2 separate regions of the Homo sapiens genome follow, and region 1 is linked to region 2. Evidence: fine-mapped expression QTL. A gene starts in region 2. The other region holds a variant in brackets. All regions are shown on one strand. Distances are between the middles of the regions.

Region 1 (15,734 bases), 42 kb before region 2:
TGCACCACTGCCTCTTTGGTTTACATGACACATCTTCTCAAGAAAGCTGTGGCCTGTGCGTGTGCAGAGTCTATGGCTCAAAGTCCTGCAATAATTGAGTCAAACAATCATAGCAACAATGACGAGAGCTAATCATGGCTGCCTGACAAACTCCAACTCATCCTGTAAGATCCACAGCAAATGCCACCTCCTCTGTGAAGCTTTTCCTGACACAAGCGGCCTCTCCCTCCACTTGTAAATGGCTCCTGTCTAGGTAGACACCACCAGGATGGCCCCTGTGGCCCCCACGTCTGGGTATTCATGTCCTTGTGCAGTCCCTCCCCCTCATGTGAGCAGGTCCTGATGTCTCACCTCTAACCAAAAGAAAAAGGTAGAAGTGATGAGATATCACTCCTGGGATTAGGTCACAGAAAAAGATGGGAGTTTCCATCTTGTTTGCTCGCTCTTTATCCCTATCTCTCGCTCAGAGACCTTGCTCGGAGGGTGGCTCAAACAGCAAGGACCTGCTGCCTCCAGCTAATGGCCTGTGAGGCCCTGAGACCTGCCAGCAGCCTGTTGTGAGCCTGCCCGGAAGCACATCGCCAGCCCCAGGCAAGCCCTCAGATGACTGCAGCCCCAGCCAACAACCTGACAACAGCAGGCAGAGACGCTGCACCAGGGGAAGATCCCCAACCCACAGCACGGGGAGGGGATAAGTGTTGCTGCATTCAGCTGCTATCTTCCGAGTGATTTGTTTTGTAGCCACACATAACACAGACAGCCGCCTTCCTCTTGCCAGTCTACAAGCACCACGGGGCAGCTGAGTCATACTTATCTGCCCCTCTGGTTCCTGGGCAGTGGGGAAAGGTGGGTCTGGGGACTTGGGGAAGGCCTCTCTGAGGAGGGGGCATTGGTTGAGATGGCCTCCACCAAAAATATATCTTGGGGGAAAGTATTCCAGATAGGGAGAGCCATCCGCACACAGGCCCTGCCTGCCGTGATGGGAACTTGTGTATTCAAGGAACAGAAAGGCCCTGCTGAGCCAGTCCCAGGAGTAAGGGTGTGCAGCACGCGAGGACGCTGGAGAGGCTGCAGGCAGGGAAGGACTTGGATCTAGCAGCTTCCAGAATCCAAATCAGAATCTGGATTGCCTCCCCTTCTCCCCCAGGGACGGCTGCTTCCCAGGGTCCGGCACTGGGCTTGGACACAGGCTGATTCCTTTCAGGTCACAAGCAGGATGAAGTTTGGGACAATGTGCCATGTGGCCCGCCGACCCCCTGCCACCCAAGTGCCCCTGGCCACTGCCCGAGGCCAAGAGCTGCAGGGATGCAGCCCCCACCCACCTCCAAATCCTCTCGTCTTCAGTTCCTCATCCCGGATGATGGTTGGGATGATCCCCAGCTCCTTTCCAACTTTGTTAATCTCCTGGACATGTTCATGGAAAAAACAACAGCACAACAACACATGAAGATGGCTGGAAACAGGAGAGGCCGAGGCTGGGGCCAGGGATGAACCGCTGCCTGTGCCGCGTCGGGGAGCCGGGCTTGGGAGCCAGCTTCGCGTGTGATGAAACCCAGAAGAGGGGGCTCACCCTCCACACACTCTCATTTCCTGTAGCTCTGGCTGTGGTCCTGCCAAGGGGCCTTGAAGAGGAGGCTCTGTCCTCCCCACACACCCTTTCCTGAGGCTTCCTGGAGCCCGGCAGACAGCAGCGCTCCGCCGAGGGCAGCCCTGAGGTTCCCTGGCCACGTCAGGGTGTGGACAGCCCCAGGTTTCCTCTGGCTCTCCTGGGAGTCTATGACACCCACCCCAGCCTGGTCCCACCCCCGGCCTGATGACGCCACAAACCTCGAGGAAGGTGTCGGTGTTCATCTCATTGCAGGGTGTGTCCACGATGCGGGCTGCTAGCCGCACGCCGTCTGTGGCATTCGCTAAGCACTAGGGAGAAAAAGGCCATCACTGGGGACCAGGTGGGAGGCAGATGTTCTCCCCTTGTCCATCCCCCAGGAACAAAAGGCAGCAGAGGCAAACATCACCCACAGGGCTACTGACAGGGCAGCAAAGAGAGGGGAGAGGGGGACCATGGCTCTCGCTGCCTGCCCCACCCCCAGCAACCCAGGGCCACCGGCCACCTGTAGAAAGAACCTTCAGCACAGCCACCACCCTGCGCCTCCACAAATATACAGGAGTCCCCAGCCTGGGGTCCTGCCCTTCTGTATCTGGATCTTTTCCAAGCCCTGTGTCCTGTTTCTCCCCTGATTCCAGCTACAACTGAAGGTAGGTGGCCCTCATGCCAGCCCCTGAGTATGCCCTGAGCTTCCCACGCCTCACCTCTGCAGATCCCACAGTCCTTTCCCTCCCACCAAGATCCCAGTCATCCTTCGAGGCACTTCTCATAGGCCGTATCTACCAGTAGCTTTTCCAGATCCTCCCCACCAAGCAGAAGCACTCTACATCCTGAGTGCTTGAACCTGCTGGCCCTCCCAGACGCCTTCCCTCTGGGCCGTTGCTTTCCTCATGAGTCCCACGCAAGTCCCTCATAAACCCTGCAAGACAGATGGGGGTCTGGCTGCCCTAGTGCTGTCACTTGACACAGCACGGTTCTGGGCACGGAGGGGAAGGACACAGAGGGAGGTCTCGCCTCATGGAACTGACGTGTCCACCCAGGAACTGAAAACATGGGCCCTGCTGGCCTGGCAGGGCTTCAGAGCCCACACTCGAAGGCAGGGCAGAGAGGGGCACATGCACCAAAGCACACATCACGTGGGTCCCAAAAATGTGTCCTTCAGCCCTGGCTTGGGCCATTCTTTGCCTTCTCATGTGTGTCTCACATCTGCCCTGGGAGCTTCACTCTCTCTCAGCTGAATCTGCGGGCACCCCTTCCCCACCCTGTTCCCCACTGTGCATCCCCAGGCACAGAAGCTTCAGACAGCTGGCTGCTTGCACGGCCTCCCTTGCTCACCAGAAAGACAATATTAAGAGAAGAGCAGCGCTGTTTTGCGGGGGTGCAGGACAGCAGCAAGTTTATCATCCCTGCCTCTAGTCTCATAATGTCAGGGCAGCAGGCGCCGGGTCGATACTGCAGCCTGGCCACCTCCCCCGCCCTGCCGAGGTAATTAAACCCCAAAGCCTCAAAGGTAGAAACCTGGACCTTGACAGCTCTGATATGAATGTGCCTGAGCCGTCCCTGCCGCCTGTCAGCGGGTTCTCTGTCTGTGAGGGCATGTGGGGACTCGACAAGGACTGTCTGAGAAGTGCGTCAATGCTGTGTGACTTGCCTCCAAGGAGGCCAGGTGTCACCTGGAAGACCCCAGACCACGGCGAGCTCGGGGCTCTGACGCAAGAGCGCTCCTGTGGGAGGGAGGGCAGGGCTGCGGGTGCCCTCCACCAACACACAGCCATGCTGCACTGGGGAAGGGTGTCCCTTACCATGAGAGGAGGACCACTCATTCTGTCCACATGTGCCAGGCATCGTGCAAGACTCTGAGAATTCAGAGACGTCCAAGGGAGTCAAGCTCAGCAGAGACTCACAGTACACAGTCCCAGTCCCTGCTACAGAAGAGGATGAGGCCACAGGATGCAGAGGGGACAGGGTCCTGGGTGGGGACTGGAAGGTTCCCGCAGGGAAGAAAAGGGAGAAGCTGAGTACAGGCCACGTGGGTGTCAGATGATGGTGTGCTCAGGACCCAAGAGGGCTGAGTGGTGGCAGCTGCAGCTTAACACCTGGCTCTGCCCCTTGCTGCCGTGGCCCCGGTGAGCCACTCAATGTCGTGGGGACAACAGGATGTATCTCACAGGGCTGTAGTGAGAATTCAGTGCACCAGCACGTGCTGTGTGCACACTCCTGCCTCAGCGCAGGGCCTGACAGCTGACAGCACTCAGAAGATGCCACCTTGCACACACCCAGATGTGCCTTTGGAAGGCGAGTGACGCAGGAGCTGGAAGGAGGCCATCTGTGGCAGGGTGACCAGGAGACTGCTGCCACAGCCCAGGAGAGCACCTCAAGGCACGGCACTGGGCAGAGCAAAGACAAGAAACAGGACACACTAGCTAGTTGGGACCAATGGGGTCGGGGGCCATGGGGACTGACTGCCCCCACTGGTTCCATCACCAGATGTTTACTGGGCCTTTTTCATGTGTGGGGTCGGGTGCTGGGATCACTGTGCACAAGACCAGGTCCCTGCCCTCTGGGGACTCCCAACCCAGTGAGGAGCACAGGAGATCAACAAAGATGTGACATGTCTAGTAGTGATGGTTTAGCTGACAAATGGGAGGGTGGTGCTAGCCAAGAGGGCCAGGCCTCCCTGGGGAGGGAATGTGGGCAGAGGCTGGATGGAGACCATGCTGGGCTGGAGAGGGAAGGACCCCTGCAGAGGAGCAAGAGCAGGAGTGGGCGTGGCCAGTCTAAGGGACAGCAGGAAGTCCACAGGAGGGGAAGGGACTGAGGGCAGCAGAGGTCAGGGTGCCCTGCTGTCCTCGGAAATAAGGGTGATGCTTGAGCCCCCGGTGGGCTCTGCGGGCACCCGTGCCCACCTGGATGGCAGGCCTGGAAGTCAGAAGAAAATCCCTAAAGACAGAGAGAAGAGGCAGATGCTGGTGTCTGACCCGGAGAGGGCTGAGCAGGTCGGAACGCTGGAGAGGCCATGAAGGGGATGCCGAGAGGTGGCAGCAGTCTGGGGAGCAGCGGGAGGGAGGGAGACCTCTGGATGGGGCAGATGCACTTCAAGGAGGGACGGCAACACCCCATCCAGCAGTCCTTAGAAAACAATGTCAGGATGGGGGCAAAAACTCTGTCTCCATGGGTTAAGAGGGAAAAGAGGATTAAGCAAGGCAAACCAGTTAGACTTTTTTAAAAGCTCAGAGACGAAGGGAAAAAAGGGGAGCTATCTCATGCTGGTGAAGATGGAAGAATTTGGGTTGAGGGGCAGTGGTTACAGGCCTCAGAGAGCACACAGTGAAAGAAATGAGGTGTGGCCCAAGTGCTGATGTGGGAGAGCTTGCCTGGGTGAAGGCGACAGCCTTCCAGAGCCAGAAGTGAAGAATGAGCGCTGACACATGAGAAAAGACAACCTGGGTGGCGCTGTGGGCTCGGGGACTGGAGGTGGCAGGCGCAGAGGCTGGGACCGCTGCCGTGGGGACAGGAGCCTGATGTCAGGCCCATCCAAGGATCTGGAGCTGGGAAATCACTTCCGGCCTTGCAGCCTCAAAAGGATCATTCTCAGCATTGAGTGAAATAACACATGTAGAAGTGCTCCCTGTAAAGGGTGCAGCAACACACATGCACACACACCACACACACACCACTCATGCACACACTAGCACTCATACACACACAGCAACACACACAACACACACACACACCACTCATGCACACACCAGCACTCATACACACAGCAACACATGCTGCTCATGCACACACCAGTACTCACACACAACAACACACACCACACATGCACACACCACACATGCACACCACACACACACACCACTCATGCACACACCAGCAAACACACACACACAGCAACACATACCACACGTACACCACACACACCACTCATGCACACACCAGCAAACATACACAGCAACACATACCACACACACACACACATCACACATGCACACACACACCCCCCACACATACAACACATGCACATACACTCATACACGCACAGCAACACACATGTGCACGCACATACACACACACGTGCATACATCACACACGTGCACACGGAGCTCACATAAACGGGCAGGGTTATTTGGAAAACAGCATGGACGTTCCTGGCACTGATTACGTGCTCAACAAACACTGCCTGTATACAACAGAATCCTGAAGTCACAGACCACGCTGAGGCAGAGGCAGGGGGCCTGGGTTTGGAAAAGCCTCTGCCGCTTCCCAGGAACCAAAGCTCCTGGGAAGGGCAGGAACCCCCTCCTGCCCCCGCAACAAGCTTTTCCCTCTCCCGACCTCCCTCCCACCTGCCCGATCTTGCCCGGGCCCAGGGGCAGTGTCTGCCCTTCCAGACACCCACCTGCAATGTGGACACCTCCACCGGCCCGTTGTCTTGTCCCACCAGGAAAAACTCCACGGTGACCGTCTTCTTCTCCAAGCGCCGAGAGGCACCTGAGCGGTGGGTGAACAGCGGGAAGGCCCGGGCCAGGGCACAGGCGGAAGCAAAGACCTCCGGCTGCTCGCAGACCATCTGTGGCACATAGGGAGACGGCGTGAGGGGTGCAAGGGCCGCCACCAGGGAGTGCAGGGAGCTGCTCTTTGAACGCCTCCGGAACATCAGCTCCCTGGCAGGTGACATCTAGACAGAGATGTCCCACAGCAGCCGCCACCCCATCCCTCAGGTCATCCCCGGAACCATGGGACCACCATTGGTCATGCTCCAAGAGAAATAACACATTGGCCACCAGATGTCAACAGCCTGACCAGCCATGAAAATGAGGGACAGAGGGACAGACACAAAGTGGGCCTCAGGAAATCTAGGTTTGAGTCTCTGATTTGCCACCAAAACTGATCTGGGGCAAATCCCCGCGTCTCTCTGGACCTGTTTCCCTGTCTACAGAGCAGGGATGATAACGTCCACAGCCCTCTGGGCGTGCGCTGCAGTCTGAGCAGGGCTGTGAGCTCCCCAGGCCCGAGCTCACCGCTGCCCGACTAGGAGCACCGTGGCTGCCTCCTCTCGAAGCACTCACCACAATGCAGCGATGCGCTCCGGGCGGCAGGCAGGTCCGCACCAGCCGCGTGATGAAGTGGGCGGCCGAGGGGCTGTTGTGCCGGCTCACCCTGCAGGGCAGGGCAGCCAC[G/T]GTGGCGTAGTTCAGGTAGAGGGGACAGCTGTCCGTGGGGTTGGGGTTGAGCGTGCTCAGGGCAGCCTGCCAGAGCTAGATCAGAAGGGAGAGACAAGACACAGAGGCTTCAAACAGCGGCCACGTGCCAGGAGGCCCTGCCCTGCAGCCACGGCCACAACCACTCCTGCAGTCCTGGAAGGGCACTGCGCAGCTCCCGGCCACCGTTTTCCCATCCTTAGGGAGATGTGTCGCCTCTCTGCAGAGCTAACTGTCTCTAGGCTGGCTCGCATCCCCCTGGTGGGATGAAGCCACCAAGCCTGGAAGGGCCAGGCTGGGGGCTGCTTTGCTTCCAACACTCGGATAGGGCTTAGGCGGCTTCCACCAGAGAGGGGGCAGGGGCCAGGTGTCCCCAAGGAAAGGCAGCTGGGGACACTGCCATGGGAACTTCTGGAAGCCAGGGCCTGTCGCCAGGCGGGGCCGACGCGCGGCCCTGGGAGCGGCCACGTCTCCCCCCCCGCCGTCCGCAGGTGTCGCGGCCTCGCGGGGCGCAGGGCTGGGCTGACAGGAGGACCACCGCGCCGCACCGGCGACGGGGCCTGGGGCTGGGCCTCCGCGGGCGAGGACTGGCCTGGCGGCTGAGCCCTTCAGGGAGGCGGCCCGGCCTCGTTGGGCCCGGCCCGGCGGCGGCGGGGGTGCGGCGGGCGAGGCGGGGCCTCCGCGGGCCGCCCGGGCCTGGGCTTCCGCGGCGCGGGTCGCATGGCGGCCGGCGGCCCGCTCACCTCCTCGGTGACCCGGGGCTGCAGCTTCCCGCGGACGTGGCTCCAGGGCACGCGGTGCAGGTGGTGCAGCTGCCCGAGCAGCAGCAGGGGCCGGCTCTGTGGGTCCGAGTCCCCCGCGCTCGCCTGGAACTGCAGCCCCACGTTCGCCATCTTCCTGCCGGCCCACGCCCCGGCCCTGCCCGGCCCGGCCCGGCCCGCCGCTCGGCCCCCTTCGCCCCGCTCCGGCCCGGCCTCGGCACCGCCCCGGCCCTGCCCGGCAGCCCGCGGGCCCCGCCTCCCCCGCCGCTCCGGGCTGCTCGCGAGACGTGCAGGGCCCGCCCGGGGCGCGAGGGGGCGCCGGCCAGGCCGGGCGGAAGGGTGCGGGCAGGCCCGGCCGGGCAGGCCCGAAGCCGGCCCCGAGCAGGCCCTGCCGAGTAGGGCCCGCGCGCCCGGCCTCCAGCGGCGCCGCCCCTGGGCCTAGCGGCCCTGCCCAACACGCGGGGCGACGTGGCCCGCCAGGCAGCGCCTCCCGGACGGGCCTGGCCTCCAGTGGGGCCTGGGCCGACGTAGGCCCAAGCCCACCCGACGCAGTTCCGCCCGGTCAGGCCTCAGGCTGGCCCCAAGCAGGTCCCCCGAGGTCCCTTAGCAGCTGCTTTTGATCCCCAGGGACCCCGCACCCTGGCCACCCATCAGTTAGGCCGGAGGGGCCCAGTGACTCTTGGACCTGAGTCAGGTCCTTTTGTCCCACTGCCTGGCATGGTGGGTACAGCGTGGACGGTCACTTCCTCCTCACTTAATCGGAGGTTCCCTGGCGTTTATCAGACCCCGCTCTGCCAGGCACTGCCCTGGATGTGAGAGGGTGACAGGGACGTGGCTTTCCATCCAGGGCACTGCTGCTGGGATGGCCAGTTACAAATCCAGGCACTGCCTGGCTGCATGGGGGGCCTTCCCGCCCACCCCTTTGCAAGAAGGGTCATCTGGCACAGTCTAAGCAGGAAAGGAGGGACGAGATGAGACGAGGAAGGAGCAGGGTGACCTGAGTCACCTCAGTCGCCTTACAGGGGAGGAAAGGCCATCGGGGGTGTGGGGCAGGAGCCGGGTGGTGGAGGAGCCAGGGGTGAGCCTTGAGTGGATGGTGGAGGCGGAGGGTCCCACCCACAGGGTCAGATGCAAGGGTCAGGGAATGACGATGCATTGGGGAAGCTCCACCCAGGAGTCATTTAAAAGCAAAAATCTGTTACCCAACATCCTGATTGCTCAAGGGCCTTTGGTTGGTACCCTCCTCTGTTACCTCCATGTAGTTCCATAAGCCACTCCTGTTATTTTGAGTTTCTTCTTCATAACCAGCCTAAAAATGAAAAAAAAAAAAAAAAAAAAAGAAAAGAAAAAAAGAAAAAAAAGCACTGTCAACTCCCTGGCGTGGTGTGAGAGGTTTTCCACCACTGACCTCCCAGCTGGCCCCCTAGCTCCCTAACTTGTAGCCCCGGGAGCCACAAGCCAGGCTTTCACCTTCCCTGTCCACAGGCTCCAGGTCTGTCTGCTCAGCTCTGAGCCATGGTCCCTGGCCCCTTGGAAACACCACAGACTAGAGCTTCAGCATCCTGAAGGCAGGTCTTTTTGACTTTTTGTTGTTTTTTTTTCCTCCAGTTCCTGGCACAGAGCAGGCACTCAAAAAAAAAAAAAAAAAAAAAAAAAAAAAAAAAAAAAGCTGTTGAATGACTGAAAGGCATTCCTTTGAAACCCTCAGCTTTCCCGACATAAAAGTCAACGCTAATTGGATCTTATTTTCTTCAAAAGATTTTACAGCAGCTGAATGTTTTCACACATTGGTAAAGGGTACTAACAGTGTGTATGAAGATCTCTCACTCTTTTTTCTGTTTGCAAATACGTTGCAGACAGGCACACGGCACTCCAGAGGACTGAGACAGCTGGAGGATCTTCCTAGAGGGTGAGAGACTAAGGCCATGCCCTGACAGATGTAATAGGACTTCCACAGGCGAAGAGATTGAGAAAGAAGGCCTTCCACGTGGGAGAAGTCCTGGGAGGAAACACAGACGCAGAATATGTCCAGCAGGCTCTGAAACCTGTGTGGTTAGAACAGAAGGTTCCTGGAAAATAGGAGTGGGTGAGGAGATCGACTGGGGAGCCTGGCTCACTCTATAGAATTTTGCAAACTGAAGAGGGATCCAAGAAGCATTTCAGAAAGCCAGATCTAGCAGGTTTGTGTACAAGGAGTTGGAAATGAGATAAACTGTTGGTGGAGAGGTCATTTTGGAGATGTTTTTCTTTTAGAATTCTTTCATATTTAAGAATAGACTGAATAACCCTGACAGTCCCCAGAAAGGATGAACAAAATGATTCAATTCAACCAACATTTGTTGAGCACTTAGTGTACACAAAGCAAGAGAAAACGTTAGATGCTTGTTAAAAGCAAATATTGGTGATTCTGGTTTTAAGCCACCCCCGAATTGAAGAAATCCAAACTAAACAGAACGCTAAGGAATTATTCCACTTCAAATGCCTGCCAATTTCCTCAAGATTCAGCTTGTGACAGATACAAATACATTCCAGGAAAGTACTTTCCCTTTTTCACTGCTGACTTTACAGACTTTAACATAAATAAGACAGGCAGCACTTTGTTTAGATAAATTTTTATGAAGGTATTAATCCATGGCTTACTATATATTTCACTGTCAATGAAAAATTCAACTCTATTTAATTTTCCTTAAAAAATGAAAGTTTAAAACAAATTACCAGATCTTTAATGCAACCCAAAAATCAACTTATGTTTTTGATGGCTTGAAACCTATTCCACATTCAATTGGATGTTCAGACTTTGCTCCAAAGTTGAAGAAAAGATTAAAAACTTCTGGGACAAATCAGAATAAAGCTCCTAGAACTTACTAGGATGTTTTTTGGTACAGTTCACATTCTAGGACACATTTCTGAAATCCTATCTTGTAAGATGGCTCTAGGTGTTTGAAATCTACATTTATATGTTAATTTCATGTCAGACTTCACCCCTATAAAACCTAATGCCTGCTTAGACTCAGCTGATTGCCACGAGGCTCTCAGATTCCATTATATCCGATACTTCAAAGAAACATTTCCTCGGTGCATCTGCTTCGTATTTTCTAGCATTTTCATTCATTCATTCATTTGACATACATTTGTTGAACATCAGTTCTGAAAAGCTACAGGACCCGTGAGGCTTTGGGGACGCAATAGCGTGTGTGTGTGTGTGTGTGTTTGTGCATGTGCACGCATATGTGTGTGTGGCCAGGAGGAGGAAGGGGAAGCAAGTAGAACAGTAAAATCCAGAGATCCAGTCACTGGGAGAAGATTGAGTTAGGGAAGGCCCCTTGGACTACGATGAGACTTTTGAGTTGGGCCTGGAGGGATCGGTTAAAGTGTGTCAGGCAGTCTGATCCCTGACCAAGGAATTGTTCATGCAAAGGCCTGAAGTAGTAAAGGACATGGTTCATTCTGGCACTGTCAAAAGCTCATGTGGAACCAGGCCCCGTGGCTCAGGCCTGTAATCCCAACACTTTGGGAGGCTGAGGCAGGTGGATCACTTGAGGCCAGGAGTTTGAGACCAGCCTGGCCAACATGGTGAAAACCCATCTCTACTAAAACTACAAAAATAAGCTGGGCATGGTGGTGCATGCCTGTAATCCCAGCTACTCGGGAGGCTGAGGCATGAGAATCACTTGAACCTGGGAAGCGGAAGTTGCAGTGAGCCGAGATCACGCCACTGCACTCCAATCTGCAGGACAGAGACTCTGTCTCTACAAAAAAAAAAGAAAGAAAAAGAAAAGCTCCTGTGCCAGATATAAAGTGCGCATAAAATATATACTGACCTTGCAGGTTGTACTTGACCTTGCAAGTAACTGGAGACCAGTGGAAGTGCCTCAGGCAGGCCTGAAGTGGAAGCAAGGAAGGGCTCCTTCCTGCTTCAGAATGACCTGCTCGTGAGCCCAGAGGAAGCAGAGGCAGGCTCAGCTCCAAGGACCTCCCTGAGCAGCTGGCTGAGAAGTGAGCCCACAACCAGTGAAAACTGTGACAGCTGCACGACCGCCTTGAATGCTGCCCTGCGTTGTGGATGTTTGTGCTGTCCCTTGCTGCAACCTGAGTGCCTGCACAGCAGGGAGGGCCTCCGTTGCCTTTTGCAACTGGCACCAGACATGCCACCTAGATTTGCACTAAATGTTCCCTGAAGGGAGGAAAGAGAACTCGTTGCCATGAAAACACATTTCTCTAGAAACTTTTTTGAAAAGTTCATTAACTTTTGGAAAAGATGAAAAACTAGTATAATGAACACTTGTATACCCTTCACCTAGATTCATACATATATATACAGATACACACACACACACACCACACACACACCACACACACATACACGCACACACCACACACACATACACACACACCACACACACACACACCACACACACCACACACACACATACACATATATACGCACATACACACATGTATACACACACAGACACACACATACACACAAACACACACATAGACACACACACACATAGACACACACACACACATATATACACACATACAGGCACACCTCGGAGATATTCTGGGTTCAGTTCCAGACCGCCACAGTAAAGTGAGGTATGCCTCTATATACACAAACATGCGTATATGTGTATGTGTGTGTATGTATATATGTATATGTATATGTGTATATGTATATGTATGTATGTACACATATTTTTCCCTGTACCATTTAAAGTAAGTTGTATACACCCCTACCTCATTGTGTATCTCTTAAGAACAAGGACACCAGCCGGGCGTGGTGGCTCACGCCTGTAATCCCAGCACTTTGGGAGGCCAAGACGGGCAGATCTCCTGAGGTCAGGAGTTCAAGACCAGCCTGGCCAACATGGCAAAAACCCGTCTCTACTAAAAACACAAAAATCAGCCAGGCGTGGTGGCATGCACCTGTAATCCCAGCTACTCGGGAGGCTGAGACAGAAGAATCGCTTGAACCTGGGAGGCGCAGGTTGCAGTGAGCCGAGATTGCGCCATTGCACTCCAGCCTGGGCAACAGGAGTGAAACTCCATCTCAGAAAAAAAAAAAAAAAAAAAAAAGGAATTAAACTACCATCAGAGTGAACAGGCAACCTACAAAATGGGAGAAAATTTTCGCAACCTACTCATCCGACAAAGGGCTAATATCCAGAATCTACAATGAACTCAAACAAATTTACAAGAAAAAAACAAACAACCCCATCAAAAAGTGGGTGAAGGACATGAACAGACACTTCTCAAAAGAAGACATTTATGCAGCCAAAAAACGCATGAAAAAATGCTCATCATCACTGGCCATCAGAGAAATGCAAATCAAAACCACAATGAGATACCATCTCACACCAGTTAGAATGGCAATCATTAAAAAGTCAGGAAACAACAGGTGCTGGAGAGGATGTGGAGAAATAGGAACACTTTTACACTGTTGGTGGGACTGTAAACTAGTTCAACCATTGTGGAAGTCAGTGTGGCGATTCCTCAGGGATCTGGAACTGGAAATACCATTTGACCCAGCCATCCCATTACTGGGTATATACCCAAAGGACTATAAATCATGCTGCTATAAAGACACATGCACACGTATGTTTATGGCGCCATTATTCACAATAGCAAAGACTTGGAACCAACCCAAATGTCCAACAATGATAGACTGGATTAAGAAAATGTGGCACATATACACCATGGAATACTATGCAGCCATAAAAAATGATGAGTTCATGTCCTTTGTAGGGACATGGATGAAATTGGAAATCATCATTCTCAGTAAACTATCGCAAGAACAAAAAACCAAACACCGCATATTCTCACTCATAGGTGGGAATTGAACAATGAGATCACACGGACACAGGAAGGGGAATATCACACTCTGGGGACGGTTGTGGGGTGGCGGGAGGGGGGAGGGATAGCATTGGGAGATATACCTAATGCTAGATGACGAGTTAGTGGGTGCAGCGCACCAGCATGGCACATGTATACATATGTAACTAACCTGCACAATGTGCGCATGTACCCTAAAACTTAAAGTATAAAAAAAAAAAAAAAGAACAAGGACACCAGCCAACATAATCATGATCATATGCTGATCATACCCATGAAATTTAACATTGAAACAATACTATTATCCAGTATACAGTCTGCAATGAAACTTTAATCGTCCCCTTGTCCTTCATGGCTTTTTCTTTTTAAATCCAGAATCCAAATAAGGCATTGCGTTTGGCTGTGAAGCCTCTCTGGCCTCCTTTAATCCAGAACAGTCCTTACCCTTGTCTTTCATGCACTGGTATATCCTACAGAAGCTCTCACCATCTGGATTCGTCTGTTTTCTTAGATTTGGGTTGAACGTTTTTGGCAAAAATACGGGTTATGGTTCCCATCGAACCTCATCAGGAGGCACATAAACTAAGTGTCCCCCATCATTGGGCAAGTGGGGTCTGCCAGATCTCTTCATGGTAAAAGTGCATTTCCCCCTTTTATAATTAATTGAATTATAATTTCCTCTTTAGAATCCATGGAGTGACACTTTGAGACTAAGAACCGTCTGGGTCTCAACCATCTATTCCTGAATGTCTTTGGTATCCAGTGATGATTTCTGCCTGAATCAAGTATTGGTTGAGTGACTTTCCAGCTCTATCCTCCCTTCTACACTTACTACCTGGTGTTCTTCAGCAAAGACCTCCCCCTCCCCAGGGCTGGCAGCATGATTTGTGGAGTCCAGTGCAAAACGAAAACGCAGCGCCTCTCTTTCAAAAAGCAATTTCAAGATGGCAACAGCTGAGCACTAAACTAGGCACAGGGCCCATGTGGCTATGGTGGCTGCACATCCTTGAAGCCAGCCCTGCCACAGCCCATACGTGTGTGCATCTCATCAAACGTCACTGCTCCCAAGTGTCCCCACTTAGGCCAATGAGAGCTGCATCAGGCAGGCTCCTTTTTGATGTGTTCTTATCCATTTTCAAGGACTTTGTCCTTCCTGGAACAGTAAGATGATCACAGGCTCACTTTGTTCCTTCCTTGACCCAAATCCAGAGTCAGCCATTTCTCCGAGAAACCCTAGCTCCATTCAGTGAGGGGAATGGTTGGTTAGAGCCAACAGCTTCAGAGTTAGAGACCAAGCTCTTGTGCTGGGCATGCTCCCTGCCACTTGGGCGTCATTGCTCCTGGTCCTCTTGGATCTGTTAAGATCAGGTTTTCTTTAACATCATGAGTTGATACTGATTCCTCCCATTCAAATCCACGTGACAGGGCTTTTCCTCACCTGCCCATCTTCCATAATCGCATCTCCCTCTGCCACAGTGAGGACCCTGGTTCCCAGCCCCTCCTAGGGTTTCTCACTCTGTTTCCCACAACACTCACCAATAGCCTCCGCTCCCGACAACAAACCCACAACACAGAGTTCAAGATGTTTTAACTTTTTGTTCCTAAGAGTATATTCCAGGGATATATTCCACATATACTTGATTTTTGTGCAGCTTACTGATTTGATGTACATTTAGGTTCATAAATCTGTGCTTCACAGAAAGGTTTGCCATTTTCCTTTTTTCTACATTTTCTTTTTTGACGACGTATAACATTTTGTATCATTCAAGTCACACCTATAAAAAGGAAATGTTCAAAGATCTCCCCATCCTGCCCTTCCCCCCTTTTCTCAGTCATCCTTCATAGGTAGCATTTTTTACCCCCACAGGTAACCTTTTTTTACCCCCATAGGTAACCATTTGTATTAGCTTTTATCTTTCATGATTCTATTTGAAAAAAATAAGATTATTCATGGATCTTAAACAAAAGGTAGCATACTACATGCCATCTTTTGCACTTTGCTTGACAAGCACATTTGGTAGCCTCATCTGCATGTACTGTGTCTATACTTTCTGGGATCAGTGGGATGAGAGAATGTGTTAATAAAAATGTACCAGCAGAATCATTTATTAACAACAAAAAACGTCTCTTCTAGCATCAGTTTTTAGGACCTCTCGATAAAATGAGGGGGCTGGGGCCAGGCATGGTGGCTCACGCCTGTAATCCCAGCACTTTGGGAGGCTGAAGCGGGCAGATCACCTGAGGTCGGAAGTTCAAAACCAGCCTGACCAACACAGAGAAACCCTGTCTCTACTACAAATACGAAAAGCCAGGCATGGTGGCACATGC
Region 2 (15,734 bases):
GCAAAATAAAAGAAAAACTCTTACCATCTCTTGGTATGTATTATTATTAGCTAGAAAGCATACAGTTATTCATAAGGCTCTTATAAAAGCAAGCAAACGAGACAAAACAAAAGGTAAGAATAATTTTTTTCTTTTAAGGGGAGGGGGAAGGGAGAAGCATGACACCAGAGGGTTAAGTTTCAATTGAAAAGTAAAGGTTCTTTTTTAGATCAACATGGAACTCTATCTTCTGGACAGACATTTACTAATGACAGATAATCTAAACAACTAGGTCTTTTTTTTGTACAGTATTGATCACTGAAATAATTAGTGGTGAAATTCAATAATCAATTGTGTTTTTTTATGTTTAGCAGTAAATTTAGAAAATAAAACATAACTTTCTTATTTAAAAATAGTGCAAATGAAGCTGCTCTATCAGGGTCAAAATATTATTAAACAATGATAGCAATAAAAATGTAATCAAACTTTACTCCACGTAAAAATTCAATTAGATGACATTATGAAAAGCTGCAAATCCTCTTCATTCCTTCCACAATTTTCTATGAGAGCAAAAAAGAACTCTATACACACCCTGCCATAATAGTAGTACTAGACGATATTAATAAATCAAATGGAAAGCTGATTTAATTACCTTTTACTTTACAAAGAAAAAATGTTTTTATTTTTTAAAAGCTTAACATTAAGAGAACATTAAAATCTTTTATTAATAAAACATGATGCAAGACAAAATCCCTAACTTGAGTATCTCAGTCTTCTTCCTATTCTGCAGCGGCTCCCTGGCATTTAATCTTTGAACGATGTACTATTGCAAACCTCGGTTAAAATCTCTGCTGCACATGTGCCTATGCTCTTGGATTATTAACCGAGCACACACACCCTGATCTTCTGATTTCTACAATTATTAGTTGATAAGAGGTGAAATCAGAATCATGGGATTCTAGGGCTAGAAATAAGTCTTTTCTTACAAATAAGAAAACTAAGCTTCAAAATGTATAAATGCATTGCTTGAAGCCACAGAGCTTGTTAATGGTCAGACTGGGGACAGACCCAGGTGTTCAGGTCTCTTTCCACCCCACCCTCCAGCCTCTCTAATTTTATTAACAATTCAGGGAATTACTTGTGATAGGCAGCTACCACCACATCAGGAATATTAAATTAAGGTCACCTTTTCAAAGACCCTCCCCACCATTCTGCTATTTAAAAATAGAAGGCTTTCAAAATTCTGTCTGCCACCAAATTACCAGGAAATTTAGTCAAGACCTGAATTAAAACATTTAGAATTACCATCAAGAAAGACCAAAATAAAGCCAAATGAAAACACGTTACTACACATCATCACCTTCTAAATCTTTATAATGTCTAAATCTAGGTTTTTGACCTTCCAATGGCATGCAATCAAGCAAACACTGAAAACTCCAAGTAGCATGTGGAATTTATAGTCTAAAGAACTTTCTACATAAAACTGAAAAATAAGTGGAAACCCATCTGTGTTTACTCAGGAAGTCTGGAAAAGTTGAGCAAAATGAGTTGGAAACACAGGTCTATGCTATAGTGATATTTACTTTATTTCCGTTACTGCCAAAATAAAAGTTTGCTTCACTTTTATCCAACAAAGTACCCTTATTCTCAAAGTAAGCCTCACTGCTCCCATGGAATCTTTAAAAGCAGAAAAGCAAGTAGATCTAAAGAGAAATATATAATGATTTCATACTTGGATTCTAAAGACAGAGAACTAATTTTCCAACAGACTCAGCTTGTACTAAAACTTAGAATCTTCAATCTGCAAGTTAAAATTGACTATGTAAGGTTCATAAAGTGAGATAAAGAAAGATGCTAGCCTATTGCAAGAAAAAAAATTGTTTTAAAACAATAGGTCCTTCCATTTTCCAGGATCTGCAGCACAAGTTCTGAAAATGCAGCCAACACCAGAGTGGCCCAGGAGGTGAGCACGGGGCTCTGAAGCCAGATTTGCCAGAGTTCCAATCACAGCCCCCAGCCATCAGGTGGGTGACACTGGGCCAGTTTCCTACCTCCTCTAAAATCTGTTTCCTTATCTGTATCTGAGAAAAACAATAGTACTTATTTGATAGAGCACTGTGAAGATGAGCTGAGCTTACACACGGAAAGGGCTTAGCCCAGAGCCAGGCACAAAGTAAACTCTCCATAAATCTTAGCTAATATTGTAGTCAAGCCTGAATAAGGACCTCAGGTTTCTTATAACCATAGTTAATCCTTAATTTCCTTTTTCCTAAAGCACACATTTTATTAAAAATAATGTGCTTATGTTTCAAACTAATCTAAGACCAATTAACGCTAGCTTCCAATTATAGATTATGCATTATTTTAAAGCAGAGTATAGATTAGGCAGTAAACACTAACAAAGTAGCTCCAACCCCTATATTAGATCCATTCCCGGAGATCGAAGGAAACCACACAAATCCATACAGAATTTCATCAGATCAGAAGAGCATCTCAATATCTACCTTTCATTCATTTCTTTATGACTTTACAATTTGTTTTGAATAATTGTTTAGCTTCATAAATCCATTTCAGTTTCCTAAAGCCAAGCTGCTTGAATGAGTTGCTACCTTAAAACCTGCACTTGGCTGGCATAATAATGTGAAAGTTACTTTTGCACAGTACTGGGGCTACTTCTAAGGATTTCTGTCAGTAACCTTGGACTGACAGCTACAACACTGTTGACTATGAATTTCTCCTTTTCAAATTAAAGCTAAAGTCAGGAGAAACAATGTATTAAAACAGAACTTGAGAAAATACTGTTGAATCGATAGGGCTGCTGGAAATCACCTAACCCAAACCCCTCAGTTTACAAATGAGGCAAAAAATGTCCGAAAAGATTAAAGGCTTGCCTAAGGACACACTCTGAGCCTGCAGCAGAACAGGACTTAGGCCTCAATTCTCAGATTCAATTCTCAGTGCTCTTTCCTTTATTTCATGCTGCCCTGAGGCATGAACGTGATGGGGCACTCAAAACTGAGGCCAAAGTAAAATGCATGGGAAATACGACTGTATTTTGTTAGGAGTGCATAAAGTCAAACCTGTCTGTTTTTTTACAATTAGTTTTACTAACTTTAATACAACTAAGAACACAAAAAAGTAGAATTTTGCTCAGTTCTGGATGCTGAAATCTAAAAAGGATACAGAAAAACTAAACATCATTTATAGGAAAAAAGCATAACCACTCTGAGCCGGGAATGCTAGGCCTGGAAAGAATTCTGGGTAACAAGGCTGCAGGGTTACCAGACAGAAGGAAGACCCGAAGGAACAGAACTAAAAGCAGGACCCCAGGACACAAATAGTTGGGATTAACAGGCAAAGACTTTTTAGTGGTAAAAATCATGGAGCTGCTGGCATTTTCCATCATTGTCATACACCATGGCCAAATAAGATAGGCATGAGGGGTTATCACAAATGGGGACATTAGGCCAAATGACCTTTAGGTTCCTTCTGGCCCTTGAGGCTTTGTGTTTATCTGGTCACTGCGTATCCTCCTTAAATTCCTGTTTATTTGACATATTTGCCTGAATGCTGCAAAACCCTGTATGCACGCACAGGGACACACAATAACCCCACTACAACAACCAAATTCTAGTTTTTTCCCTCAAACTAGGATGCAAAAAATGCATGTTTAAATTTTTTGAATGGCATGGCTTTAGGTGTGCTTTGCTTTGAGGTGTATGATACACACTACTCTGCAATTAATTTCTGCAGCTTTTTCCTGAAATAAGATGTCAAAATTCAGGATTACAATTTTTTTTTTAAAAAGTCTGTTATTTTAGGTGTATTTTTAGTTGGTATCAAATGCATCAAGATCAAAGTCTACAGCTTTTTCTTCTAATTGGAAACTTAAAATTCCAGGTTATTATTTTTTAAATTAAGTTAAACTTAGGTTTAATTTCTTCCTTTCAAATTGCCTGAGTGTTAGACATGTATTTACAAATTGCCTCTTTTTAACTGTTTTACTTTACTATAACAAATATACTTACTTTAAGTTTCTATTTAAAAATTTTCAAACATGCAGAAAAGCCTACAAAATGGTAAAATGTCGCACACATACTCATCACTAGACTTAACAATGAGTAACAATTTGCCTTATTTGCTTCCTCTATTTTTGGAGGGGTTTAAGGACTTAGGTAAGATGCCTTGACATTTCACCACTAAACATTTCAGTAGGCATCTCTAATAAAATTAGCAAATGTAATGTATTATAATTAATTCCTTAATGTCACCTAATACCTAGTCCATATTCAAAATTTGACAGATACGATTTTGTTTGGTTTGCTACATGGCTTTGAAATTTACAAGTCAGAAACAAGGCTTTAAATTTTTTGTGAGCTAGATATGCAGTGAAAAGCATTGCTAAGAGTTACTCAATAGATTTTACAAATTGTGTTAAACATGGCTTTTGCTTCAAAATGTTTATAAAGCTTTTCCAACTTCCAGAAAAGTTGAAAAAATCATAACCTCTATTTAGTCTTGTTAGCATTTCGCCGTACTGTGTGCAGAATAGATTTTGTTACGAATCACCTGTAAGCAAAGTGAAGATGTAACACTTCAACCCTAAATACTTCAGAAATTTATGACATGCCATTTTTTAACACAATTAAAATATATAAATCTGTGTTTTATTTTTAAATTTGAATTCAGGCAAACTATGTTTGTTAGACTGCAAAACCTATTTTTGAGATAGTATGGATTGACTATAAGGATATTTTAAATGATATGACTGCTTTCAATGATCTGAGAAAGATTTTAAATGGTCAGACTAATATAAATATTAACATTTTCAATGGTATGACATTTAGAAAACATTTTTTAACGTTCTTAGAAATGTATTTTTAGTTGGGTTTAGAAATCTATTTTCAAAAAACTGTGAGTTAGCTAAATGTATCTGTATATACCCTGACATATCTATTTTTCCAAACTGTATACGTTAACTATCCATTTTTAATTATTCTGCTTAGCTTAAATATTTTTTAAAATTGCCTAACTTAGAAAATAATTTTCTAAAGTGGTCTGATTCAGAGATGCACTTTTAAAAAGCTTCCCGTCTCAGATACTAGGTTTTTAAACTGTCTGACTTAATCGGGAAAAAAAAAAAAACCCTCATGTTACCCAAAGGTTCAGGGTATTTTGAACCTTAATGATTAAAAATTGAAAAATAAACAATATGTTTTTCAATTAAAACTGATACCTTAGAAATCTTAATATGAGTTTCAGTAGTTTTTGAGGCAGCACAAAATCAAGTCATTTAAGGAACATGCAGTTCTTATTTAACATTACTGAAGTTCCATTAAGGAATTGAATTCATCCAATTTCTACTCGATTTCTTGGATTATTTCTTCTTCAAAATTAGCGCTAGAATTAGCCTGTTTCTATGCTACCAGACATCTTTACATTTATTTCAATATAATGTAATTCCTTTCCGTTTATAAATGTAAAAAAAACCCTTCAACTTCTTAATTAACTGAAATCTCACACACACTCTGTCCCTAGTTCTAGGCTGTTTGACCTGAGTTTACATGCTTTTATTCCTGAAACCGCTCACACGGCTTAAAATGACTTTTCTATCAGTTATATGGCCAAAGACATTCTCCACCTGTGACTTACAAAAAGGAGAAACTGTCTTTGTAGACATGATAATCATGACATATGGCAAAATTTTCCTGAAGCATTTAGATAAAGCCATAAAGAAAAAAATAAACTGGCAATACAGTCCCTAAGAGGTGAAATGAATGTTCCAAAATTGCCTAATATCAAGTATAACCCCCAAGAATGTGGTCCTGGGATGGCTATTTCCCGCCTGTTCCAACGCTGCTTCTATTCCAACCTAGTCTGCCTACAGCAGGTAGCCTGAACTACAGCCAGTTTCATAACTTCACTTTTCAATTGAAGACATTACAGAGCTAACGATCACTGTCTGGTATAGATCATCCAGACTCGCCCCTTATTTAACAGAGCAGTAAACTGAGGCTCAGAAAGGGAAAAGTAGCCCCCATTAAAAACAAACCCCAAACAGTAATTTTTCCAGGACCACCCTTAAAAAACGCTACTGCTAGGCTAACTAAAGGTTGTGGTTAATTAAAAAAAAAAAGTGCTATTTTACGGGGTTAATTTTCACATATACCTCCTCAGGCTTTTTTTAAAAAGTTCGAATGGAGAGGAAAGCTTAATTTCCTGTCTGGGAAATGGAAAGTGAAGAGGCTAGCACCTTGAGTCTCACAAACGCAAGCCCCCAGGAAGAACAGTGAGGCAATTATTCACAGGGAACAAGGCCACACAGAGGGCTGCGGGGCCGTTAAAAGAAAACGGGCGGAAAAACAAAACAAAACAAAACAACAACACAACTCCCTCCTCTTTGAGGGGAGGGAGTCGTTCATTTTGCAAGGATTTGGGTCTACGATCCGGCGACCCAGCCCTTAGGACCAAACTGAGGCTCATTACTGGGGGGAGGGGAGCTTCAAACAAAACGAAACAAAAAGGCTTCAGAAAGGCCCAATGCTTCCCAATGTTAGCGTTAAAACATATGTAAATTACAGGCGGCCTGTAGCGCAGTGACGCCAAGGCGGGGGGTGCGGGGGGGGGGGTGCTGCGGAAGTGAGGAGAAGACCGGGCAGAGGTGGAGCTGCGGCCTCACAGCACCGCTTCTTCCTCATCCAGGGCTACAGATGCCCCCTGACTCTAGCCAAGAGATCTTATTATTCTTAGTCTTATTATTCTTATCTTCTCTTTTTAAACAGAGAGACAGACAGAGACAGACAAACAGGCAGAGCCGCAGTGCACACGGTCCGTGTGTCGGAGAGGCCGCCAGGAGACTCACCGCAGCAATGCTACGTGAATGCAGAGGGCTGGAGGTGATGTGACTACTCACTTGCTCGGCTAACAGCTGCCGGTTTTGGATGGAATTATTCCGCAACAACAAGAAAGCGTCGGTTAAACGCCTGGTGGCCATGTCTCACCCTTTGCGACCCCCCTCTCAGGGGCCCCCCGCCCACTTATATTCCTGATTTATTCACTTTCTTTCTCGTGGCCCGGCTGGCCCACCCTTTCACGGAAGCTTCTCGACAAGGCCTCAGGCCTCAAGCCAAAAAGATGCAGCTGTGCGCTTCGCCAAGGCGTAGAGACCCCTCCCCAAATAACTACCTAGGCTTTCCAATTGTCTGACTCCCCCTACCCAGGGCAGACTTCGATCTCTAAGCACTTGAATCCCCCCAATCCTTGCGTAGCGATCCAACGTCCCAGAGACCCCACCCCAATCCAACCTTGGATCTACAAGCGTCTAACTCGCCAATCCGGCTCTAGACTGGGAGGCCCTGAAGCCCCCTACTCCCTGAGACCCCCCGGAGGTCTCTGCTCTCTACCCCTAACTTTGGCTCGTAAGCGTCTAGGCCGTGCCCTGAGGTCTGGCTGTGACTCAGTTTCCGCACCAGAGGCCTGGCCTAGGCCCTCTTTGGACAACCGGAGCCAGGCTTGGGGCCTGGACTCGAGGGCGCCTGCAGCTCCCTTCTGGGGACTTGTCTGAACCTGCTGAGGCCCTGCCCGACCTCCTGACCCCTTCCTTTCCTGGACGGCCTGGTCCTCCACTGCCAGCAGGCTGCCGGCCTGCAGGAAGACAGCAGGGCCTGCCTCCCCGGCCTTCTCACTCCTCTTCTCCGGCTCCCTCCATCCCCGGATCTGACTGCAGCTCAGCCCCGGACCGTTTCCGTGCTGTGGTCCCGGGTTCTGGCGTTCCCCCCTGGCCCTCTTCCTGTCCGTCCCTCGCGAGTGCCCCCCTGCGACGCTCGCAAGCCTTGCTCGCAACGTTCCGGGCGCGGGAGCTCCCTGCACTCCTGCCCCGGGGCACGGGAGTGCTCCGCCCTCTCCCGGGGTGCTCCTCGGGCGCCCTGTTTCGCCTCCCCCAACTGGGTCCAGGCACTAGGAGCAGGCCAACGAGCAGGCCTGAGCCTGGGGAGCGTGGCCCCCAGGCTGCAAACCGCTGCCAGGGCCCTTGGTCGCTGAATTAGAGTGGAAGTTGCGCGGCAGGCAAATTTGGGCTCCCCAAGAACTGAAGTTTTGGGCGCGGGGAGTTGGAGCGGGAGAGGAAAAGTTGGAGACGACTGCCTCTGCAGGCCGAGCACGCTCTACTGCAGGCGGCGGCGCTCGCTTTTTTTTTTTTTTTTCCCACTCTGGAAAAAGATGTATCCGACAAACAACCACGAGGAAATAAAAGGAAAAAAAAAAAAAAAAAAGGAACAAGAACTCCAGGCAGCCTGGCCGCGCCGCCGCTGGCAGTCGGGGGTCGTCGGGGGCGCCCGCCCTCCCCAGCTGCCGCTTTCTGTAGGGGGCACTGCAGGGTCGTGGAATCTCAAGTGGAAAAGTTCCCCGAAAACTTTGACACCTCCCACCCCCCTCCCCGCGAAAAAAATCTCTGTTCCCTGCCTGGGCCCTGGCCCTGCGACCCCCGCGCCCCCCCGTGCCCCGGGCCGGGTTTTCCACGGTTGGCCGGGCCCAGGGCGCCCTAAGCACCTCGACTTGCCGCCCCGGGCCAGGTCGGCGGGGTTCGTGCAGGGGCTCCGTGGGGCCGCGTCGGGCAGGGGCCGCCCGGGCCCGAGCACGGCACCCACAAACAGGCTGGCGTCCCGCGACGGAGACCCGGGTCCGGCCCGGAGCCGCCCGGGAGGCTTGAGGCCAAGGGCCTGGCCCAGCGCGCGGCCGGAGCGGGTCGGGGGCGCAGAGCTGTGCGGCGGCGCCTTCCGGGCCCCGGGCCTGTGCAGGGCCGGCTTCCCCTTGCGGGGCGAGGCTGCGGGCCGGGCTGCGGTGCGGGGTTCCAACAAAGGACCGAGGCCCCAGAAGCGGCCCCCACGCGTCCTTTGTTTCTGCGTGGAACAAACTTTACACACGTGTGTGTTTTCCGAGGGTTTCCCGTGTGCTGAGCGCTTGCAAAGCGGAGTCGCGCCCGGGGAGACGCGAAGCCGGTGCCCGCGGCTCACCCAGGGACCCCAGCCAGACAGCGGCACCCGCGGGGCGCGTGCGGGACCCCCAGGCGACCGGGGGAAGCACCGGTAACCGCCCCCCACCCGTGCTTTTTCTCTCACGGAGAATGTTCCCGCGCGTTCGTTGTGCAACTAAAAATTAATGTGAAACATCCATTGAGGCAAATAACAAAATGCATCCAACGAAACCCACATAAAATCGAGAGAGCCGCGAGCAGGGCTGGGCGAGTTCACTGTGAGGACCGGCTCTGGCTTCCGCGCAGCGCGGAGAGCAGGGCGCTCGCCCGGGGACGCTTCGCAGCGGTGGAAGATTCGGGCGACAGGGGACTGGGTCGCCGCGCGGGCCGGGCTGGAGGCTGCAGGGACTTGCTGACAGGCCATCCAAAGACAGAGAGGCCCTGGGGAGGGAAATTCGGGGAGCCCGTGTGCTTAGCGTAGCGCCCCGGGAAATATTTGCCCAATAAGGGAGAGTTTGTCCCCACACTGCGGCAGAACCCCCCTGCGAGCTCTGACCCCAGCAGCACGGCCAAGCCCCCCCAACCCCGCTCCCCCCTTTAGGGGACAGGTATTTGTAAATAACAACTGAGCTGGTCGTCGGTAGGAGAATCAGATTAGAAACATGGTCCCCACTCTCTTCCTATCTCCCCAGCACTCATCACCTCACAAAGCAGGGGGGGACCTGTTTACTTTTCCTGGCGCTCTCCCCCAGGCTAGAACGTGATCTTCTTCCTACGCAGGGACAGTGTTTTATTCATCTTTGTACCCACTGCCATCTCATCTGGCTTGGAACAGGCTCCGGATAAATATTTTTTAAATATGTGCATGAATTAATGAGAGACTCGAGATTTAGTCCCCAAACTCTCTGACCTCCCTCGAGTGACTTTAAGCCTTTAGAGCCCTTATCTGTTAAGAAAAAAAGAAAAAAATGTGGGTTTTTCGTAATCCTCGTAATCCGCGCCCTGTCTACTTCTCTGGGGTTATTGTGAAGATCAAATAAGGTAAGTGAAAACTCTTTGTAAACTACCAGGTGCTGAGCAAATATTATATAGGATGGTTATTCATTCATTCCCTCCGTTCAGGAAGCTTAGCAAAGTAATTCCTGGTCTTGTGTTTCAGCAGATGGTGGTCGCCTTTCCTGGTCAGTCTTAAATATTTATTACAGGACAATCTCATTCTTACATTTAGGAGATCAATCAAGCTTCCATTTCTTTGAGCGAAATGAACACTGCTTGCACACAAATAATGGAAGAAAAATCCTGGTATTCCCAAAACAGCCACCCCAAGCAACCCAAGAGCCTAACAGCGGGGAGGTCAGGAAAATCCAAGAAGTTGGCATAGCAGCCCAAAGGCAGCACCGTGCAGCTCTGACCAGGCCCCAAAGGCAGCACCGTGCAGCTCTGACCAGGCCCCAAAGGCAGCACGGTGCAGCTCTGACCAGGCCCCAAAGGCAGCACCGTGCAGCTCTGACCAGGCCCCAAAGGCAGCACCGTGCAGCTCTGACCAGGCCCCAAAGGCAGCACCGTGCAGCTCTGACCAGGCCCCAAAGGCAGCACCGTGCAGCTCTGACCAGGCCCCAAAGGCAGCACCGTGCAGCTCTGACCAGGCCCCAAAGGCAGCACCGTGCAGCTCTGACCAGGCCCCAAAGGCAGCACGGTGCAGCTCTAAGCAGGCTGTGTTTAGGTATGGGATTGTGTGCCTGAAATAGTGTTAACCAAGAGGGAGCCCAGAGAGGGCATGCACCCCTGGCTCCAGTCACGTCCATGGTCCATGTTCGCCCTGACCCACACTGGAAGGGAGTTGGGGAAGGATGTAAATCATTATATTTGAATGTTCCTTGGCTGTTTTATTTTCCTGTCAAGTGACTTAAGCTTGATTTTTTTTTTTTTTTAAAGCATTCCCCCATGGCCAAGTATGTGTTTCCTTGGAATTGAAATCTAGGTTGATGGTTTTACATTTTAAAAGCTTTCATTGTGACTCATTCTTGGCCTGGGCTAGGATTCGGTAATACTCCTCGGGCTTGGTGAGGCTCCGTGTCCTGTTTCTTGGGCTTCATACCCACTTTCTAACATTCTGCCAACGAATCCAATAAGTCACTTTTGGGGACAAGTGTTTCATTGTTTTCTTGTCATCTCATTCAGTGCAGGAGGAAGCCCCATTGAAGCCAGGCCATGGCTTGGGCAGGTGCAGGTTTTCAAGTACTGAGAGGGGATGGTTAGCTCAACAGGTCAGCAGTGGGACACACACCCTTTGGTGAAAACAATTTAAATGAGATAGGGCTCATGTAAGCCCTTATACAACCTCAGCATAGAGTAAGTGCGCCACAAATGGGCAATATGATTTATTACAGCAGTAGTCTTACTGTTGGAAAGCTCACGTGGGCTCTGCTCTCCCTGGAAGGCATCATAAACTCCAAAGAGAATGGCATGGTATTGAGAACTGAACACTTGGAAATCTAAGCACGTTTCCGAGCTTCTTGTTCTGGACCTTGGGAATCCAGATGTGTCTGCAGTGCACACTCATGTGGAAGAGGGGGCTAAACCATCTCAAAGACACCTTTTAACATTGGTCTTTCTCCCACCTATAGAAAGACAGATGGTTGTTTGCTTATCAAGCAGCAAAAGCCCCCAGGCCTAACATATGTCTCGTCTGCACAGATCTGACAGACAGATTCGGGCCAGGTTCGGGTAACAGGAGTTGTGTGTTCTGTGTCCCCAAATAGTTCCTCAAAACCTTGAGTATTTCCAACAACAGAAAACTCCCTATCTGGGTCTGTCTTCAGCTATGATGCCTCTCCCAAGAAGGGAGACTCTGGAGAGAGGCAACACTTTTGTTTTGTCTGGAGTCCCGTAGCTTTTAATACCAGACAATTCAATACAGTAGGCATTTCTAAAAATCTACCAGTGGCTGTGCCTATCTCTTGCCAGGCACTGCTGAAAGAATGAAACAGCAAAACTCTTGCCTTCAGGGAATTTGCATCTCCACTGTCTCTACCCAAATTCTGGTTCTCATCGTGTACATTTTCCCAGCAGCCTGCTAACAACCACCCGTCTCTTCCCTCCTCATCCTGCAGCCACAGTGACCTTTCCAAAGCATAAATCTGATCATGTCACTGCCTGATTGAGGCCCTGAAACAGCTCCCTCTGGCCCATGCCAGCCGATCTCAAATGACGCTCAGCAGAAAACAGGTGCTCTAAGTTGAACCAAGCTGGGCATCACTAATATTAACTAATGATGGACTTTTCTTGGTTGTCAGAAAAAAAAAAATGAAGCTAATTAATGGAGTAGTCTCCATCTTAAGTGTTTCTCTTCTCGCTTTCTCTTAAACCTTCAGTCCCTGCCACCACTTGGCTGTATTAGAATATAGTATAAGACTAGATCTGATTTATTCCAGAATCATGGATTTCAGTACAATTTTTTTCCCATAGATCAGTATTTCCTGGAGTTCTGCATTTAGGTTTTCTACACTTTCCACATGGCGGAGTGCCCCCTGGGCATTCAAAGCCCTGCCCAACAGGCCCCACCTAAATGGTGAGCTTTTTTCTTTCCAGGACTTGGCTCACAGGCCTTTCTCTGCCTGGTGGGGGTAGTGGCGGGGGATGTGTCTTGCCCCTTCTGCTTGGTGAACCCTTCATTGAAGACAGCACCCCCTACACTGTCAGGTGTGATAAATGTTTGCGGAATGGATGACTGGATGGATTAATGCACAAAAGGTGAGATTAACTATATTAAGTGCTAGAGAATACCAGACAGTCAAGACTCAAAATGGGTGGAGAGATTAGGGCAGTTCTCTGTCCCCCTCGCTCACCCCTTTTCAGCCACACTAGCCTTCCCACCATTCCTCACACCTCCTTAGCACCTGCTTTGCTCTCCTTCCTAGGTTCTTCAAATAACTGGCTCCTTCTCACCACTCTTGTCTCAGACTATTCAATAGAAAGTAATCCTCCTACCCTGTCCACCGTGTGGGGAGAGGACTCTCCTCTCCCAGGGCCCTTATGTCACCATCATACCAGGTGCCTGCCCATGCTTGGTCAAGTTCAAGACTGAAACAATGTCTAACATCGTGGCTTTTGGTCTTTGAGGCCAAGAAGAGGCCTCTTGGGTCACAACACATGCCAGCAAAGCATATCTGCATTTTACTTTTTTTCCAGGATGATGTGGACACATGTGTACTCAAATAAATCAACCCTCCCATCTTAACCATCTCCCTTGGCAGGAACAATAAGTTAATGTGCCAAGCCAGGACTGACCTGGATGACTCAAACCCTGAAAAACATAAAGGAAATCATTGTGTTTTTCCGCTAGCAGGTATTGAAACATAGCCAACTCACTCGTTTCTAGTTTTTTTTCCCATGGCCATGACCACTGACCTGCTCGTGGTAATTTGTGTGATGTGCAAGTGCAGGGCTGGACTCCAGCCTTCTCCAGATGCTGCCTGTGCAACCAGCAGCCCCTTATTAGCTATGTGGCCATGCATGGCTCAAGACTCCTTTGGTCACAAGGGACAGAACCCAAATCAAATGGACTTAAGCTTCAAAGCAAATGTGTTGGCCCAAACATCTATGCGTAGCTGGATCCAGAGGAGGAAACATATCAACAAGGAGTTTCTATCTCTCAGCTCTTTCTTCCCCTGTGCTGGTTTCATTCTCAAGCCAGTGAACCCCAGGAGGTGGCAGATTGCTCTCTGGAAGCTCTGCCCTGTTATCTCACAGGACAGCAACCCCAATAGATTGAAATTTCTCTTTTCCAGTGGTTTCAAAAGTCCTAGAATGGACTCTCATTGGCCTGTCATGAGTTATAGCCTTATCCCTGAATTCATTTTTTTTTTTTTTTTTTTGAGCCAGGGTCTTACTCTGTCTCCCAAGCTAGAATGTGGCGACACAATCACAGCTCGCTGAAGCCTCAACCTCCCAGACTCAGGTGATTCTCCCACCTTAGCCTCCCAAGTAGTTGGGACTACAGGCAGGTACCACCATGCCTGGCTAATTTTTATACTTTTTTTTTTTTTTTTGAGACAGGGTCTCACTCTGTCACCCTGGCTAGAGTACAGTGGCGCTATCATAGCTCACTGCAACCTCAAATGATTCTCCCACTTCAGCCTCCCAAGTAGCTGAGACCATGGACATGTGCCACTGTACCCTGCTAAGTTTTATATTTTTAGTAGAGATGGGGTCCAGGCTGGTCTCGAATTCCTGGGCTTAAAGAATCAACCCACCTTGGCCTCCCAAAGTGCTGGGATTACAGGCATAAGCTACCACACTCAGCCATAATTTTTTATACTTTTTGTAGAGATGGGGTTTCACCATGTTGCCCAGGCTGGTCTCGAACTCCTGGGCTCAAACTATCCACCTGCCTTGGGCCTTCCAAAGGCTGGAATTGCAGATGTGAGCTAGTATCCTGAAATTCTAAACTTAGCCAGAAAGTAGTGATCATCAGATGGGTCAGACCAGGATCACGTGACCACTTCTGAACTCAGGGAGGGTGCCAGGGTCTGATCCATCCAAACACAATGGATTATAAACTCGCCTCTTCTGAAATCAGCGTGTTAGAACCAAGAAAAGTGATGTTGGGTGCTCGCATGCAACAGATTTCTACCTTGGGTCTGTTTTCAACCCACTGTGTGCCCTTTGCACACTGCTATATGCCTCTCCTTCAAACCCACTCCTCTGGCTTCTGGAACTTTGGTCATGCCTGCTTCTCCTCCTTCATCATCCCTCTGAGGCCCAGCCCCCAAATTTTGATTTTCCCCAGTGTTAAGTCCTTGCTTTTCTGTTACCTTTCACCTAACCACAGTGGCAGGTCCCGCCTACCCATGGGCCTCCTGCACACACTCTACCCATGGGCCTCCTGCGCACACTCTACCCATGGGCCTCCTGCGCACACTCTACCCATGGGCCTCCTGCGCACACTCTACCCATGGGCCTCCTGCGCACACTCTACCCATGGGCCTCCTGCGCACACTCTACCCATGGGCCTCCTGCGCACACTCTACCCATGGGCCTCCTGCGCACACTCTACCCATGGGCCTCCTGCGCACACTCTACCCATGGGCCTCCTGCACACACTCTGCCTCTCATTCAGAGCATCCGTGTGGATTTTCCACTGCACGGAGCTGCCTAGGTGTCTTACATGCTCAACAGTGAACCACTGGCTGCCCATCCAAGCATGCTCTTCCTTCTCCTCTATTCCTTATCTTTCATTGGCACCCCTAAATAGAGCCTTTGGTATCATTTACCATCCTTGCTCCCATTTGCCCCCACCACCTGCCAATGTACCACTCAGGACCACATCGTGACAGATTCTGCATCCTAAATATCAACAGTCTGCTCTCCTCTCCATCTTCACTGCTCTTATCACCTCTTTTGCCTGGAAAATCACAACAGACTGTCTAGCTGGTCGTCACACCTCCAGTGCTGGTCCCTGGTGTGGAATGCTTTCCAAACCATCACCTTTGTAAAAATATCAATCTGTTCATGTTCCTTTCCTGATTAGATAACTGCTTTGTCTTCCTACTGCCTATTAGAAAAAAATAACTCTTTAACTTTGCTCTCAAAGCTGGATGTGTCCAGGGTCTTTCCAGCCACCCCTGCCTTGAATCCTGTGCCCTGCAGAACATTCTCTGCATACTCCGTGCTTCGACCTTTTTTTTTTTTTTTTCCAAGACAGGGTCTCGCTCTGTTGCCCAGGCTGGAGTGCAATGGTGCGATCTCGGCTCACTGCAACCTCCGCCTCCTGGGTTCAAGT

Direction of the effects. Alleles are on the strand shown, and positions count from the first base shown. SD is a standard deviation of normalised expression in the study named.
As copies of T replace G in region 1, the expression in skeletal muscle of the gene that starts at base 7,727 in region 2 goes up (small effect, 0.31 SD a copy in GTEx).

The links.
Region 1: its variant is fine-mapped to the expression of STX16-NPEPL1 in skeletal muscle (GTEx, PIP 0.93).

Annotation. Positions count from the first base shown.
Region 1 is chr20:58,684,867-58,700,600 of GRCh38, reverse strand. It overlaps NPEPL1 (aminopeptidase like 1), which reads right to left and starts at 7,801. Exons shown (of 12, transcript NM_024663.4): 1 at 7,551-7,801; 2 at 6,679-6,864; 3 at 6,009-6,179; 4 at 1,828-1,917; 5 at 1,323-1,404. The coding sequence starts at 7,700. It overlaps STX16-NPEPL1 (STX16-NPEPL1 readthrough (NMD candidate)), which reads right to left. Exons shown (of 23, transcript NR_037945.1): 9 at 9,374-9,567; 10 at 9,039-9,196; 11 at 8,821-8,877; 12 at 6,679-6,864; 13 at 6,009-6,179; 14 at 1,828-1,917; 15 at 1,323-1,404. RefSeq lists enhancers at 5,615-6,222, 7,663-8,368 and silencers at 7,286-7,375, 7,396-7,475, 7,506-7,665, 7,676-8,165. The variant G/T (reference allele first, on the strand shown) is at 6,790.
Region 2 is chr20:58,643,246-58,658,979 of GRCh38, reverse strand. STX16-NPEPL1 (STX16-NPEPL1 readthrough (NMD candidate)) reads right to left here and starts at 7,727. Exons shown (of 23, transcript NR_037945.1): 1 at 6,842-7,727. It overlaps STX16 (syntaxin 16), which reads right to left and starts at 7,697. Exons shown (of 9, transcript NM_001001433.3): 1 at 6,842-7,697. The coding sequence starts at 6,973. LOC107985410 (a long non-coding RNA gene) reads left to right here and starts at 9,345. Exons shown (of 3, transcript XR_005647058.2): 1 at 9,345-9,991. RefSeq lists enhancers at 6,328-6,831, 6,669-6,938, 9,968-10,505 and silencers at 8,435-8,794, 11,193-11,487.